Regions from separate parts of the Homo sapiens genome. Here region 2 is linked to region 1. Evidence: fine-mapped expression QTL. Tissue or cell type: whole blood. Region 1 holds a variant in brackets; the other region holds the start of a gene. All regions are shown on one strand. Distances are between the middles of the regions.

Region 1 (8,059 bases):
CCTTCACCCAGCCCCACACGTGAGCCTGGTCAGGCCACCGCCTTCTCTATTCAGGCTCCTTCCTCAGTCACACAGGAAGACAGTTCCTCACCTCTTCCGTCCGACCCCCTCCAGGATGGTGAAGGAAGCATGGGAGTGAAGGTGGGAGGGGATAGAGTGAAGGCACAAACATCTTGAATCAAATCAATATCCCCTAGGCCAGGGGCTCATGGCCCCCGCACTCCCCGTGGCGCTGAGGGACATTAACACAACTGACCACAGAGCCAGAAGAGAAAGAGAAGGGAGCTGATGGACTTTCTGTTGGGTTAAAAGGAAAAGAGAAGGCCGGTGCAGTGGCTCATTTTGGGAGGCTGAGGGTGGAGGATCACTTGAGTCCAGGAGTCTGAGACCAGCCTGGGCAATATGGTGAAACCCTGTCTCTACTAAAAAATACAAAAATTAGCCAGGCATGGTGGCCCGCACCTGTAATCCCAGCTACTTGAGAGGCTGAGGCAGGAGGATTGCTTGAATCTAGGAGGTTGAGGCTGTAGTAAGCTGAGATCACACCACTGCACTCCAGCCTGGGTGACAAAGTGAGACACCCCCCCCGCACCCCCCCCCCCCCCGCCACAACCACCGCACTCAACCGGACAAAAAAGGAAAAGAGAAGGAAGAGAGGGAAGAGAAAGATCCTCTGTACTTAGGGCCCAATGTTAGTTCAAGTGCCCCCTACTGGCTTTCCAGGGAAGTACAGCCTTCCCAAGCCACTTCTTACCCAAATGGCGCCTGCTAGAAAGGGGGACTCCACCCTGAGTTGGGAGATCCCCACTGCTGCCACCTCCACGAGACAGACCTGCAGCTGAAATTAGGTCCCAAGAGGCCCCCTACACACGGAAGGCCTCCTGGATCTCTGCTGTAATTACGGAGGCTGGGAACCGCACCACTATTGGGTGGCCTTTTGATGAGGTGCAATCTTTGCAGGGTCTTACTTCCCTTGCCATTTAGCCATCTTCCTTCCAGCCTTTCCAAGGGGAGTTCCTCCATTCACGTTCCTGTTTTTCTTCTTTTTTTGAGACTGAGTCTCACTCTTTTGCCCAGGCTGGAGTGCAGTGGTGCGATCTCGGCTCACTGCAACCTCTGCCTCCTGGGTTCAAGTTGATTCTCCTGCCTCAGCCTCCCGAGTAGCTGGGATTACAGGTGCCCGCCACCATGCCCGGCTAATTTTTGTATTTTTAGTAGAGACAGGGTTTCACCATGTTGGTCAGGCTGGTCTCGAACTCCTGACCTCAGGTGATCCGCCTGCCTCGGCCTCCCAAAGTGCTGGGATTACAGGCATGAACCGCCACGCCTGGCCATTCCTGTTTTTCATCCTTCTATCCAGTGGCCAGCTTAGAGCACATGCCTCGCCTTGTCTGTGTCTGTAGGTAGAAAAACTGGCACGGACACTTTTCTTGTGGAAGATTGAGGTCCACGACCAGAAGGAACGTGTCTATGAGATGCGACGCTGGAACGAGGCCTTGGTCACCAACATGTTGCCTGAGCACGTGGCACGCCATTTCCTGGGGTCCAAGAAGAGAGATGAGGTGAGGGGTGTGGTCTCAGCCCGGAACCATGAGGCCATTTGTCTCCATCTGTTCTTTCTTTCAGGCAGCCCCCGCTGGGCCCAGGCCTTCTCAGGGACAGGGGACTGGGGCCTAGGTAGGGCTGAACCTAAACAGCAAACACAAATAAGCAAAAGAGGAATTTCTCCGGCCTCTTATAAAGTGCACTGCTGTAGGCATCGTGATGTGGGCCGTACAGCTCTGAGGCCATGTGTCAGAAGACAAGACTTTGGCTAGAGCCCACCTTTCTGTTGCCTGTGAACTTCTCCAAACAGAGTGGTTCCCAGCTCTACGGTACCCTCGTCTTCACAGCTGGGGCTGTTAGAGGAACTAGAGAAGCTGTTTTAAAATTTATTCAAAGTAGTGGCCGGGCACAGTGGCTCATGCCTGTAATCCCGGCACTTTGGGAGGCCGAGGCGGGTGGATCATCTGAGGTCAGGAGTTTGAGACCAGCCTGGGCAACAAATAGTGAAACCCTGTCTCTACTAAAAAATACAAAAATTAACTGGACGCGGTGGTGCACACCTGTCGTCCCAGCTACTCGGGAAACTGAGACAGGAGACTCACTTGAACCCGGGAGGTGGAGGTTGCAGTGAGCTGAGATTGTGCCACTCAACTCCAGCCTGGGTGACACAGCAAGACTCCATCTCTCAAAAAAAAAAAAAAAAAGTAGCGATGAGCTATTTTTAAATTATTCAGAGTTGGAATAATCTACAGCCGGGCATGGTGACATGTGTCTGTGGTCCCAGATACCTGGTGTTCAAGGCCGCAGTGTGCTTCGATCATACCTAATTGTGCTTGTTTACTGCCACTGCACTCCAGCCTGGGAAACACAGCAAGACCCACTCTTAAAAAAAAAAAAAAAAATGCTGGAATAATCTGACTGATGTGTGAGTCCAAAAAGCTGAGTGCACATGTCATGCATGGAAGATAGATGCATTTCTCCAACACATCATCCAGTCAGTCGGACATGCTTTGAGCACGTTGTCCGCACCTCTTTTTAGGAGCTGTATAGCCAGACGTATGATGAGATTGGAGTCATGTTTGCCTCCCTGCCCAACTTTGCTGACTTCTACACAGAGGAGAGCATCAACAATGGTGGTATTGAGTGTCTGCGTTTCCTCAATGAAATCATCTCAGATTTTGACTCTGTGAGTGCCCATCCCACCCTGCACTCTGGCCATGAAGCCGGCCCATTCCACATCACATCCTACAATAGGCTGCAGAGGCCAGAGAAACTGGCTTCATTTTCCCAGATAAGCCCCTTCCGCAATACATGGACTTCTGCAGCCACCTGGAACTGCTGGGCTGGGGAAGGGGAGGTGAGGTGGGAGCCCGGGAAATCACCCACAGGGTCACAGGATAAGGATAAGGACTGGCCAAGCAACATCTCGAGACCTCTCTGTCCTGGGACTGTCTCCTCAAATTCAGAGCCGGTCAGCATTGACTGGGTGACCTGTATACCAGGGAGAATGCTTTTACACACGCGCGGAGCCCCCCTAGGAGACTGCCGATTTTATGTCAGTGTTGAGGTTGTGGAAACAGGCCCAGAAAGTTAGGAAGTTCTCCCAGGATCATGTGGCAGATAAGCGGTAGACTAAGTAACAACTTTGATAGGAAAGTGTCTCTTGGGTTTAGTGGGGTCCTTGTAAACAGGTACATCTGTCACTGGGTTGGGTCATTCCTCTCCCTTGACTGCTGACAATTCTTTCCTGAATCCTGGCCTCAGCTCCTGGACAATCCCAAGTTCCGGGTGATCACCAAGATCAAAACCATTGGCAGCACGTATATGGCGGCTTCAGGAGTCACCCCCGATGTCAACACCAATGGCTTTGCCAGCTCCAACAAGGTAGCTAACCCCAGTAGCCAGAGAGATGAGGCTCTGCCCCCAAGGCAAGAGATTGGCAGCCCAGACCTAGCATGGGGGAAATAAGAACTGCTGTGCAAAGTGGTCCCAGACACACACCACCAGCACCACGTAAATATAAATAAGAAATAGGGTTTATTGAGAAAGTTCGGCAAGCAGAGAAACA[G/A]AACAGACACACAACCCCCTGCTGTTCACAGCTCAGGCCTAAGATGGTTGTGTTCTGTGGCCAGGCCCCCTAAGGCTCTGTGCTTTCATAGGAACTGGAGAGCAATTGTCAACAAGGGAAACTGAAAGCATGGCCTTCAGAACTCTGGCTGACGGCAGCCTGTTCTTTTGTTAAGCTAATTTAGACCTTTGTTCAGCTACCAGGAGAGAAAATTAGGTGTAGGAGCCCTGGTCCCAAGCTCTGGTCTTAAAACACCATCATCCTGCTTTACCTCTACAACCATCCCACGGCCCTATTATATGGATGAGGTTAAAGAAACACGTCCAAGGCGGGTCATCCCCCTCCAGTGCTTATCACCTAGTTGAGGGATCCAAACAAGGACAACCTGACAAAACCTAAGGACCAGGACCAGGCCCAGCCAAGGTGAAGGGGTCCGCCTCGTGGTCAGACTCACAGGTCCGTCTCCTCTGCTCAATTGCCCAGTCTTTGCCTAGACCTGCTACGTGAACTTTGTCACAGTGGCAAGTCAGAGCTAGCGTGGCTGCGACTCCTTTGTGGGAGGAAAAGTAAGGCCTTGAACATCTAGGTGTAGGGAATCCACCCCCAGAACACTGCCAGGGAAGGCAGCAGAGCAGGCTGCTGCAGTGAGCGGCCCCTGACACTTTCTCCACGGTCCCCTGGCACAGGAAGACAAGTCCGAGAGAGAGCGCTGGCAGCACCTGGCTGACCTGGCCGACTTCGCGCTGGCCATGAAGGATACGCTCACCAACATCAACAACCAGTCCTTCAATAACTTCATGCTGCGCATAGGTGAGCACCCCCAGCTGGCCTGCCCCGCAGCAGGCTCCCTTCCCATGCAGGGGCCTGGCCCACCACCAGGAGAGACATGAGGCTCAGGACAACTGAGGCAATTCGGGTGGGGAGGTTCACGCACTCACAGGGCAAGGAGACCTGAAAGACCTTTAGTCCAGACGACTCTAGATGACTAAACCAAAAACCCAGCTGATGTGATGATCCGACTATACTGTGCCTACTGTTACAATAGAAGCTTGGCCTGCCTGGCTGAGAAGTGAGTTTGTGATCCATTTCCAGAGGGGTTGCTGTGCCTGCTGAGGACATGGCTTCCCAGACAGGCCTGCTCTTTGAAAGGAGTTAAGATCACCTGCTGCTTCTACTGAGGGGGTATCATTCCTGAGTGAGGTCCCAGGAGACTTGAAATACCAGCTGTGTTAGAAGCTGGCCACTACCATGCCGAGTAAATCTGCATATGGGGGGGGGGTGGCGGCTGACACCTAACAAGCACACGGATAAACAGGAGATGTGATTTCCACCCTCCAATAGCATACAGCCAAGTTGAATGAGGACAATGATGTGTTACATTAGGAGCTTTGTGGTACAGGTCTGGAGAGGAGATGGCTTCTGAGGCCCATAACAAGGTGTGGCCTGTGGCTGTGCTGAACTTTATGCCTCTACCCTAGGCATGAACAAAGGCGGGGTTCTGGCTGGGGTCATCGGAGCCCGGAAACCACACTACGACATCTGGGGCAATACAGTCAATGTAGCCAGCAGGATGGAGTCCACGGGGGTCATGGGCAACATTCAGGTATGTCCAGTGGCACAGCTGGCACGTGCTCAGACTCGGCATGAGAACAAAACCGGAACAGTGCTTTCCCACGTGCCCCTGCCTCCCACCCTGGCCCTGAACAGTAAGTCCAGAGGCAGAGACGTGGGGCAAGTGGAAAAGAATCTCTGCAATAGCTAGCCTCAGCACAGGAAGAAACACTTCCACCCATCCACAAAATCTGGGCTGAAGTTCTAGATGCATATGGCCTACCTTTGGGTATGAACCTTCTAATACCTTGTGATCTGTCTCAGTGGCGTCTGGCAGAAAAGCTCCACGAAAGGGGCAAAGGGACAGAAGAGCAGGCAGTGGCAGTTTCCAGGTAACAGTGCTGCCACCCAGGTGACCATGGCCATCCTAGGAGAGAAGTCTCTGGATGAGAGGAGGCCCCCAGCCAGTCACTCCAGGGTTCTCCTTCCCACCCGCTGCTCGCCACGGGTGGAAGGGCTTGGCCCTGGGAGGTTTGGGGAGTGTCCCGTACTGCTTGGGACCCATGGATCAGTGCTCGGCTCCAACCACCCAAAGCCCCCACCCGCCCTCAGTCTAGGCTCCCCCCGTAACGCCACGTTCTTGCTCCCCCTCCCTCTCCAGGTGGTAGAAGAAACCCAAGTCATCCTCCGAGAGTACGGCTTCCGCTTTGTGAGGCGAGGCCCCATCTTTGTGAAGGGGAAGGGGGAGCTGCTGACCTTCTTCTTGAAGGGGCGGGATAAGCTAGCCACCTTCCCCAATGGCCCCTCTGTCACACTGCCCCACCAGGTGGTGGACAACTCCTGAATGGCCTCGAGCCTGCAACAGTCCAAACCGGAAGGGAGAATTTATTTTTTGAAACTGAAGGAAGTCCCGACCTTCCTGGATTGAAGTGCACACTCATGGACTTTAGGTTTAGAAACCTCCTCAGCCTTCATTTGTTCGTGGATGTGTGAGCTCTGAGGGTGGCCCTGCTATTCCTGTGTGTGCCTGTAGTGTCCCCAGCATAGGGGTCTTAGGCATAGGGCTGAACAGTCCTTCCAGAGCCCTCGTTCCAATCCCTGCCGTCCTTGCCCCTGAGGGGCCCTGACCACTGTGAGCAGGAGGGTGGCAGAGCTGGGACAAAGCTGCCTTTGCCGCTGGGCTTTCCGGGACTGTGGAGGGAGCACAGGCGGGGAAGCTCCACTTCAGACAGGGCTTGGTGGGGCAGGACATGGCTCCCATTTTGAAGGGAGGTCTCCATGTGGTCCGAGTGAGGTGAGACGGCCCTCGTCCTGGTGTTCCTGATCATCTTGAAAGGTTCTTCTGGAACTCCTGTCCCCTTAGTCATGAGAACAGAAAGTGCAATATTTCCTTTCACCTGGCAGGGGAGGGGGGATTTATTTCTGAAAGAAAAATATATAAACAGATCTTCTACATTTATATTTTTAATCTTCTGTTAAATACACTTTCCGATATTGCCTTGCCTTTTGAGCTCTTGCTACAGTCGCCTTTGCTACTGCTTTAAGAGAATTTACAGGTATTGATAAAGAACAAGACTGTTTTATTAAAAGCTTTATTCAACTTGAAAGTGATTGTGGAAATTCTGTTAATATCACTTATCTGAGGAGTGCTGGTACTTTGCTGACTCATGCCACTGGTCCCCACCACAGGCCTGGAAGGCAAGAGCTTGAAGGTCTCATCATAGCTCACTGTACCCCGGAACGCCTGCTGCCTGGCCCTGTCTCTTTTATTCTTAAACTTTCTTCTAAAGGGTACTCCAAGCTGGCTTTAATCCCCTGCACTGTTCCTGGAGCTCTCCCACACGGAGGTTACTTCGTGGCCATTGCAGGGTTAAGTCTGAACGTGGCCTTGGGCCAGTCATGACTCCTATCTGTGCCTGGGCAAGGGAGGGCTACAGGAGAACCTGGTCAGCCAGACACAGGTTTTCATATCTGTGAGTGACCCACACGCCAAGGAACCAGAGGTGCCAGCAGGTCAGAGGCCCGTGGTTACGGCAAATCAGGACACTAACCGGAGAGCCTGCAGGAGAGGGAAGACCCGGGGGGCGCCTGAGTCCCCCTGAGTTAATGGGCAGATTTCTAACTAACTAACTGTGCTTTTTCAGAGGGGACTTCCTAGTACATTCACAGCTCTACTAAACTTTTAGGAAACAAAATATGAGACACACTGAACTCTGATTATTTTATCCTACTGCTTTCTCACACCATATTTATAAAGCAGTGGCCTAGAATACACTGCGCCTAACCAAACAAACACTGAAGAACTTCCTTTTCAAAAGTTTCAAACAGGAAAATGAGGAAAAATTACTTAAAGCTTTCATAAAAGCTAAAAATACTTTCCTTTTAAAAAAAAAAAAATATTGGGTCTTCCTTATTATCTTCATTAGTGAATGTGGGTTATTTTTCCATTTATTTAGATCAGTGTTTCTCAACAGAATCAAGCTATTGCAGTTTGAGTGGAGTGCTACATTTCTGTGAGAGCCCTTTCTGAAAATTTTAGGATTTTTGGCATCTCTATTCCTGGCATTAAATTAGTAGCAGTTACTGTGACAACTTAATTGCCTGGTCTTTCCCAGAGTTAATGCCCTCAATAATTTGATATTTTTCCATAAGTACTTCTTGAGTGATACACCTTTTTCAAAAAATGGCTTTTATTGCCCCACAAATGATTTTCAACTAAAATGTATGATCAACTAATACCTTTAAAAAACATCTTGAGCATTTTAAGAAGGGACCAGGTGATCATGGGAATTGTTCAAAAATGCCAGTGTCTATACTCAAACCTGCTCTTCCATCCAGATGAACAGGTAGGTGTCTGTTTTCATCAGAAGGGTGATGTACCCTTCATCAGACAGT
Region 2 (8,116 bases), 330 kb after region 1:
AAAAATGAAGCATCACTCTGGAAAAACTGGATAATCCAGTACAATTAGAATTCTGGTCCTGATAATGGGTGCGTTTTGCTTCCGTGCTTGCACCTATTTTTATGAGTCTGGCCTGTCTGTGCCTAATGGTCAGGTCAGGGCTACTCAGTAAAACCAAACATCCCTGCCCTCCACACACTAAAACATACTCTCGGGGAGTGGTAAGAACAAAATATATCCAAGATGAGGGTGAGTCTTCCATAACTCCTCGAGTGACTAGAGCTTCTATTTTGGCATAAGCTACTTATCTTTTAAATATGATAACCATACTAAGCTTTTCTAAAAGCCTATCACTCCAAGGAGCCTCAAAAATTCTGTGTTGCAGATGGGGTTATGGGGGAAGAAGCATGGATACAACTCACTTTACTTAAACTTATGGAATTGGACTTATATGTTGGTATCAGCGTTTTATAATAATTTCCCTTATTCAGCCATGTATCCTGCAGAAATATATAATAATCATTTCTATACATTAATCCAAATACTATAGCCCACAAACCATTTTCCAGAACTAAGCTATTAAAAAAAAAAAACAAAAAAAAAACACCTTCATCTCCTTATGAAATGAAGCAACCAACATTGGTACCTAGTTGCCACTAGGCCATTTTATGACCTCTGACACCAAATGTTGAAAGGCACAAGGTCTAACTAAAATATAAAGAGAAAAGGAAAGGTTTTAAATGACTAGACCTCATCTTCAATGTTAAGAATAGAACATGAGGCCTATCCTTAGTTGCCAATCACCAACGGCTAAACTACTGCTAATCTGGGAAAGAAGCAATTTTAAAAAGTCCTTTCCTACAGTCTAGTCTTCCCAAATGGGTAGGAAAGTTAATCTAAGATAGGGAGAAATTTATACGGTTCTGCAGCCCAGATCAGATACAGTGTTCTGACATCCACCTCCTGAAACACATGGATTTCACCCGAGCCCACACCGACCACAGCATCCAATATTTGCAAGTAATGCAAAATGGAACCCTCCAAAACATTTTTGGACCTCTGCCAGGAAAGCAGCTGATGGTCCTCTGAGAATTTCTGTTATAATCATATTTAAAAGGCAAAAACCAATGCCAAAACAATCATGAGCGTCCCGGGGATCTCCTATGCTCCATGACTTAGATTTTACTCCGTGTTGTGCGTTGTATTGACCTCCCACACCTGCCCTATAATGAAAACTATGTTAAGCCACATGGCTTAAGGCCAGCCAACTCCATAAGATATGCAACATAACATTCAAACAATGTGGAGTCCTTGGGAGACGCAGCAAAAAAGACAAACTAAAGTACGGAACAGAGGTAGTATCTAAGAGGAGGTATATGAAATTGATGACAACCAAGCAGGGAGAACTAAAACATCCTTGAAAAACAATTATAAATCACAGTCTAGTATACAGATTCCCTATACAGAATTGGGGAAAAGAATTTCAAGAAAATGCCCAATACCCTCTCTCCACCACTCCACCTTTCAGCACCTCTATACCACCCTCATCACTTACTCAACATTTAGTCCTAGTGAAGACCGCTCACTGGATTAGCAGGATCAAGAAGACATGCACAGAACATTCCATTCTGAGAACAACATCTTTAAATTATTTAGGCTTGTTTACCACCCTTCCCTATAGAGTAAAAGCATGAAATGTTGCCAGCACTTTCACAATATACACCAGTTAGCACCATAGCAACCCAATCTTCTGCCCACCAAAAGATTAACACATAAGCAGAAAACAGGAAATTCAACAAAAATTAAAGTTTGACCTTAGACTCCCTCAACAGTTAAATGTCTTAAGTAGTAGCAGTGTCTTTACATCACACCCGCTTCATGCTACCCTTACAGCTTCCTGGCATAAGCAAGTTCTTGGGATTATACAAACTGCTGCTTCTGTTTGCAGCCCAGATTTCTAGAAATGAAACCCTGGAATTGAGGGAGAAACAAAAACAAATGTTCGCAGAAAGAGGCAGGAAGAAGCATTGTCTATATAATCCTAGTTTAAGTGAAACAATCACCATTAGCTCCATCAAGCACTTTTTTTTTTTTTCCAATAAAACCACTGCAGATCTAAAATACTCTCTTGGTTTAAACCACACAAAAAGCAATTTAATAGGCACAATCCTACAGGTTTTCTGAGAGAAATAAGGAAGAGATCAAGTGTAAGCTACGTAAAATTCACGTTTTGCACCTTATAAAGCAAACTTCAATGTTGTTAAATAACCAGTAGAAAATATCTACAAAAATCAAACTAAACACCTGTTCTTATAAGCAGCAGTCCTCTATTTTCTCTCTAAACCATATATTCCCAACTCAGACCCTCTCTGTGACCCACTGTTCCCAAAGCATAGAGTCTGAAGAAGAAATATAAAACATTTCGGACATTCGTTCACAAAACCAAATTAGACCTTTCCACAAAGTACAGGAGATAAAACAGAAACACTTCCATTTTATCTAATTTATGGCAAATAGTTCAAGGAATGCCTATTTGTTAAGCTGAATCAAACCCCACTGCTACCTTTAACCCAAAACTATTTCTAGTTGAAGATCCAAGAGACCTAAGCAAATACTTTCTTTTCACATTATTCTCAACATGAAGAAATCCGACCCCCTTCCTACAACATCATAGGAGGCCCCTCTGGCCAACTTTCGTTGTTATTGTTGTTGTTTTGTTTGCTTTTTTTTTGAGACTAGCCTCCAACCAATTCCAGAAGAGGAGACAAACCTCAAACAAATTTAACCCTTGAGATCCATCCCTCAACTGTATCATATAATCTACGCTTCACGGCAGTAATGTTTTAAGCAGACACTTGATTTCTTAATCACTGAAATGTAAGCACCAGCCCTCACAAATCATCGCCACAGAGATTCCTCTTGGCATCCACAGAGGGTGCTGGGACTGCAATTCACTCAAGAACCCTTTACTCACCAACATCACACTCGACATTAAAAACTCACCGTCTCCGAAGAAAAAATGTCACCTTCTGCACAAGGACACCTGCCTGTTCAACACCTCTACAAGAAACGAGGAGGGCCAAGCATGAGAGGCTAACAGATCCTCCAGCTTAAAGTTTTCCTCCCCATGAAACTCTCCGGACACAACACCGTGGCCTGTCCTTGTCACACACACACAGGCTGTATTGTCAACCCCTCCGTCTCCCTCTAACGTCGTCAGACTGGGCAGTGTCTACCCATGGGGGTAACTGCTTTTAAATAAAATAAAAAAGCAGCCACCACAGCTGGGTAGTAAGGACTGGAGACCCTGGGTGTCCGATTTTTTCAGGTCTTTTACAAGGGACTAGAGAGCGGCCCGAATTCTGTCACTGCCCACTAACCAACCCCACCTCCCAATCGCCTCGTCAACATGTTTGCTTCCCTTCCTCGGCCCTTTCGGCTGAATCCCAGGAAGGGGACCAAACCCGGGCCGCGACAGGAACATGTCCAGTATCCATCCCATGTCTACCTCCGAAACCCCTTCTCGGGAGAAGGGGCGAGCAAGCGCGCCGGGGTCAAACCCAAGCGCCGTCGAGGGCTGCGCCGACGGAGAGGGACGCCGCGGTCGCCCCCATTTCGCGGTCCCGGCAGGCGAGATTCCGAGAGGTGAGCGGGCCGGCCAAGGTCACGGCGTCGTCGGGGCCGAGGGGCGCCCGCGCCGACTTCCGGCTCCCCCTCTCGGCGGCGGCCCGGGGCGCCCGCTCCCCACGCCGGGCAGGCGGCCGCGCAGCTCGCACCCCCTCCGCGGATGCTCGCCCTCTCCGCGCTAACTAGGGCAACTGGAAAAGAGGCGGAGAGAAGTCGCTGCTGCAGCGATTTCCCCCGGCGGGGAGCAGCCCCCAGCTGGTGCCCGTGACAGCTGCGACCTCCGCCCCCTCCAGCCGCGCCGGGCCGCGAGGGGAACTCGGGGAAGTGGGAGGAGGATGGAGCGGGAGAAAGGAGAGCAGGGGGCGGAGGGGCGCCAGCTGCTCCCCGCCCCCTAGGGCCTCCGCGGCCGCGCGGCTCGTGACAGCTGCACCCACCGGGAGGCTCCGCACCCGCAGCCCGCCACTCACCTGCCGCCGCCGCCTCTGGGCCCCGCTCACCGGCGCCGCACTCGTCCGCGACCGTGGCGGCGGCGCCGCCCCGGCCTCCGCCGCTCCTCGGGCCCGGCGCCGCGGCTCTCCGGCCCCCTCCTCCGGAGCAGGGGTCCCCCCGCAGGGGGATGCAGAGGGAACCTGACGCAGGCTCCGCTCGAGGGAGCAGCAGCGAACAGGCGGCGGAGGCCCTCAAGGCCGCGAGGCAGCCGTCGGAGGACAGAGCTCAGCAAATCGCGTCAGACTCCCGCTCGCCCGGCCTGAAGAACAGGCATTTCAGCCGCTCTCCGCGGCCGCCATGTTCTCCTCCTCGGCCGCCACCGCCGCCGCCGCCACCGCCCCCCGCTCGCGGCACCGCCCCCTTCGCGCCCCGCCCCGCCCCGCCCGTTCCCGGCCGCCCGCCTGCCCGCCCGCCGCACTTCCCCTGCCGGCTCCGGCCGCCCGGGCCGCCGCGACCCGGTGCCCGCGAGCTCCGACAGTGCGCCCGGGACAGCGCGCCCCCAGCCCGCCGGGCCTGCCGGGCCCGCCGAGCGAGGAACCGCCCCGCGCCCTCTGCCGGCCCGCCCCAGCCGGCGTCCTAACGAAGTGTGGGAAAGGAGGCCCGAACTCTTCCCCGCCCGTCTCAACTCCTCCCCGCCCCTCTCCTGCCCTCCCCTCGGGGCGTTCCTCCCACTGCTGCCGGGAAGCGGCCTCGAACACCAGGGCGCTCGCAGCTAGGCCGCCGGGCCTGCCGCCTCCCGCTGTTCTTTATCTTTCTGGGAAGGTGTCGGAGCGGCGAGAGGCCCTGCGGACGGGGCGGAGTCGGCTCCGGGCCTGTCCCTCCACTCGGGCGTTCTGTTACTTTGAGCGAGACATATCCCGCGGGCCTCGTTTTTTATTCTGTAAAATTGGGAGGTGGTTGCCTAGATGATTTCACAGGCTATTAGACAAGAGAAAAGGAAGATCGTCTGCCCCCTTCGTTTTACAGATGAAAAGATCTGCCTGACCCGTTCTGGCTCTGCAATTCCATGAATTATCTAAAATGTCTGTCATTCACAGATCTTTCCCCTCAAGGGGCCCACACCTTTCTTCTTATCTCCCTTTTCTTTTTTTTTTTTTTTTAACTTCTCTAATAGAAGTGCTACTTCCAAAAGTAGAGTGTTCTTGTCACCAGAGGAATCGAACAGCGGCTGAACAGCCTCTCTGAGCTGCGATGGCCTTATCTGGACCGCATCCCGCATTCCAAAGGCTGGCAATGCAATATATACCTATGTCTCTCCCTGGGTTGTCCTAAGCATGAATGAGTCACTCGCCGTGGAAGTGCCTTGTAAAGCATACATCTGTCCATTCCTTTCTTTTATTCTTACCCCATTTCGCACTCTTACCCTTCCTCAATCCTGTCCTGCTGCTGCTGTCTCCCGGCGTTTCCTGCTGTTTCGCTTCCTGTGTGTTCTCCCCTAAATCAATCTCTGTAAATCCTTAAGCCCTTCCCACCCTTCTCCCAACTGGGGAACCTGACAGCCTTGAAAACACCAATCTCCGTGGCAGCTCTCTGAGTCGACGGGCAGCTTCTTTCACAGGCAGGTACTACTGTATGCTTTCACCATCCTCTTCCTATCCTTGTCACGCTCATAAAGTAATCGCTAGACCACACCCCCACATGCATTCATATATTCATTCATTTATATATTCATTCCCCTGATTCTTATCGGAGACCTACTACTGGGGCCCTAGGTGCATCTCCTGAGCTCTGGCTTAGCAGTACCTCTAGCCACCCGCAGAGTCCCTATCCCCAATAATAGCTGAAAATACCCGGGCACTCATGAGTTTCGTCCCCTAATGTAGGGCCTACTTCCCAATCTAGTCCAATGCAGACTGTGTGAAAGTGCCTTGTTCTAGCCTCTGGTGCCAACAAATGAGCCACTTGTGCAAGGTACTCCTGTCTCCACTAGACTCTAGTAAGTGCTGAAGGCCAAATCTAGTGGCCACTTCAGTCCTACTGTCGTGTGGCCTTTCTACAGCACGTGATACTGCTAACTCCTCCTTTTTGAAACTCTCCTCCCTTGTCTTCAATATGAGTCTCTCTACCTGATTTCTGAACTTGCCTTCGTTTGCACTTTTCTTGGGCTGCTCCTTTTTTACGGGGCCATAAAAAATGTTGGTATCCTCAAGGTTTTATTTTTTTCCTTCCTTTCCTCTGGCTTCGGTTGACTGTTTATTTCCACAGCTTCAACTGTTAACAAAACAACTCCTGAATTTCCTTCTTCCAATCTCCCACTCTGCAGCCCGGGGTCGTAATTAACTTTAAAATATCCTCAAGACACACAGTGCTAAGATTTTGTTGAATGACAAATTATTTAGGTGTTAATTTATATTGCCATAACCATCCATGTATGCTAAAGAGAGAGTTCTTTTCTAGAATGGTACTGTTTCTTTTTTGTTGTTGTTGAAACAGAGTCTCGCTCTTGTCGCCCAGGCTGGAGTGCAGTGGCGCGATCTCAGCTCACTGCAGCCTCTGCCTCCTGGGTTCAAGTGATTCTCCTGCCTCAGCCTCCCGAGTAGCTGGGATTACAGGCACCCGCCACCACGCCCGGCTAATTTTTTGTATTTTTAGTAGAGACAGGGTTTCGCCGTGTTGGCCAGGCTGGTCTTGAACTCCTGACCTCAGGTTATCCACCAGCCTCGGCCTCCCAAAGTGCTGGGATTACAGTCATGAGCCACTGCGCCTGGTAATGTTTCTTAAATAATAACTCTTTGACTTTTTTCTCCTTCCTCTACAAGTCATAATCACTTGTCAAAGCAGTTATAACACCCTTTTATGTCTCCAATTGGTAATCTTTTCTCTGGTCATACTCAACTTCTCTCAGACTCCATCTACTTTTACTAAACAGGCCCATTTTACTAATCCACCCGAGCAACCCTAAATATAGGGCCAAAAGATTCATTAGATTTACTTCGTGACTGTACAAGTAGCCTCTCTAAAATCCATTTACCTTAGCTATTTAAAATTTATTTACTCCCAAAATACAATGCCAATCAACAAGGAAGACTAACTCCAATTAAATGAAAATGCTTTGAAGATATTTATAAATAAAAATGTAAGACAACATTTAACTCTTATAGCCCAGATAGAACTGGTTTTAGTCCAAACCCTATTGTTTCCATAAATTAATATAATCCTTTGGTGGACTAGAAACAGCCTAGTTCTACGGGCAAAATCTAGAACATACCTGTTGGATTTTCTCCAGAGCATAATAGATTTCCAGTTCTATAAAATATATGGCTAGTGTGCATGAAATTACTCCAGTTACTGAGGCAAGAATTGATTTAACTTTGACATTCTTTTTTTCAAATAGTTTTTTGTTTTATAATAATTGATACAGACTCACAAAATATTCAGTCAATAAAGAACAGCACAAAAAGTTTAAAAATAAACTTTTTCAAGCCAGAGAGAAACATAGTAAACATGTTTCCACACCTTTCTCTATATATATTTGCACATATAAATACACTATATGTAGTCAATTTTACATAAAAATAAAATCACGCCTGTAATCCCAGCACTTTGGGAGGCCGAGACAGGCGAATCACCTGAGGTCAGGAGTTCAAGACCAGCCTGGCCAACATTGTGAAACTCTGTCTCTACTCAGTGTGGTGGTGGGTGCCTGTAATCCCAGCTACTCAGGAGGCTGAGGCAGGAGAATCATTTGAACCCAGGAGGCAGAAGCTGCAGTGAGCCAAGATCGCCTCACTGCACTCCAGCCTGGGCAACAGAGTGAGACTCCATCTCAAAAAAATAAAATAAATAAAATAAAATCACATGATAAATGCTCATCAGTAATCTGGTGCCTTTTACTGTACAATGTATTTTCATCCTAATAGTTAAATACTCTTGCATTGTGTATCTGTTTAGCCATTTAATTCCTTACTAAAAATGTTTACATTGTCTGTATTTTTGTTTGTATATTTTTGTAAATCATGCTGTAATTCTAATGCATGCCTCCGTGCAGTTTAGAAATTATTTTCTTTAAATTTCTAGAAGA

Evidence for each region. PIP is the estimated chance that this variant, and not a neighbour inherited with it, causes the effect.
Region 2: it holds the start of NCOA1, and the variant in region 1 is fine-mapped to the expression of NCOA1 in whole blood (INTERVAL, PIP 0.99).

What each region holds. Positions count from the first base shown.
Region 1 is chr2:24,817,881-24,825,939 of GRCh38, reverse strand. CENPO (centromere protein O) reads right to left here. Exons shown (of 8, transcript NM_001322101.2): 8 at 3,564-6,586. It overlaps ADCY3 (adenylate cyclase 3), which reads left to right. Exons shown (of 22, transcript NM_004036.5): 17 at 1,404-1,562; 18 at 2,585-2,731; 19 at 3,310-3,429; 20 at 4,300-4,423; 21 at 5,092-5,216; 22 at 5,826-6,771. The coding sequence ends at 6,008. Among named protein-coding and RNA genes, the nearest start is that of CENPO, 28 kb to the right of the region's middle. RefSeq lists enhancers at 1-474, 2,886-3,430, 3,431-3,974. The variant G/A (reference allele first, on the strand shown) is at 3,614.
Region 2 is chr2:24,487,560-24,495,675 of GRCh38, reverse strand. It overlaps NCOA1 (nuclear receptor coactivator 1), which reads right to left and starts at 4,422. Exons shown (of 23, transcript NM_003743.5): 1 at 4,074-4,422. RefSeq lists silencers at 3,650-4,139, 4,294-4,452, 4,430-4,769.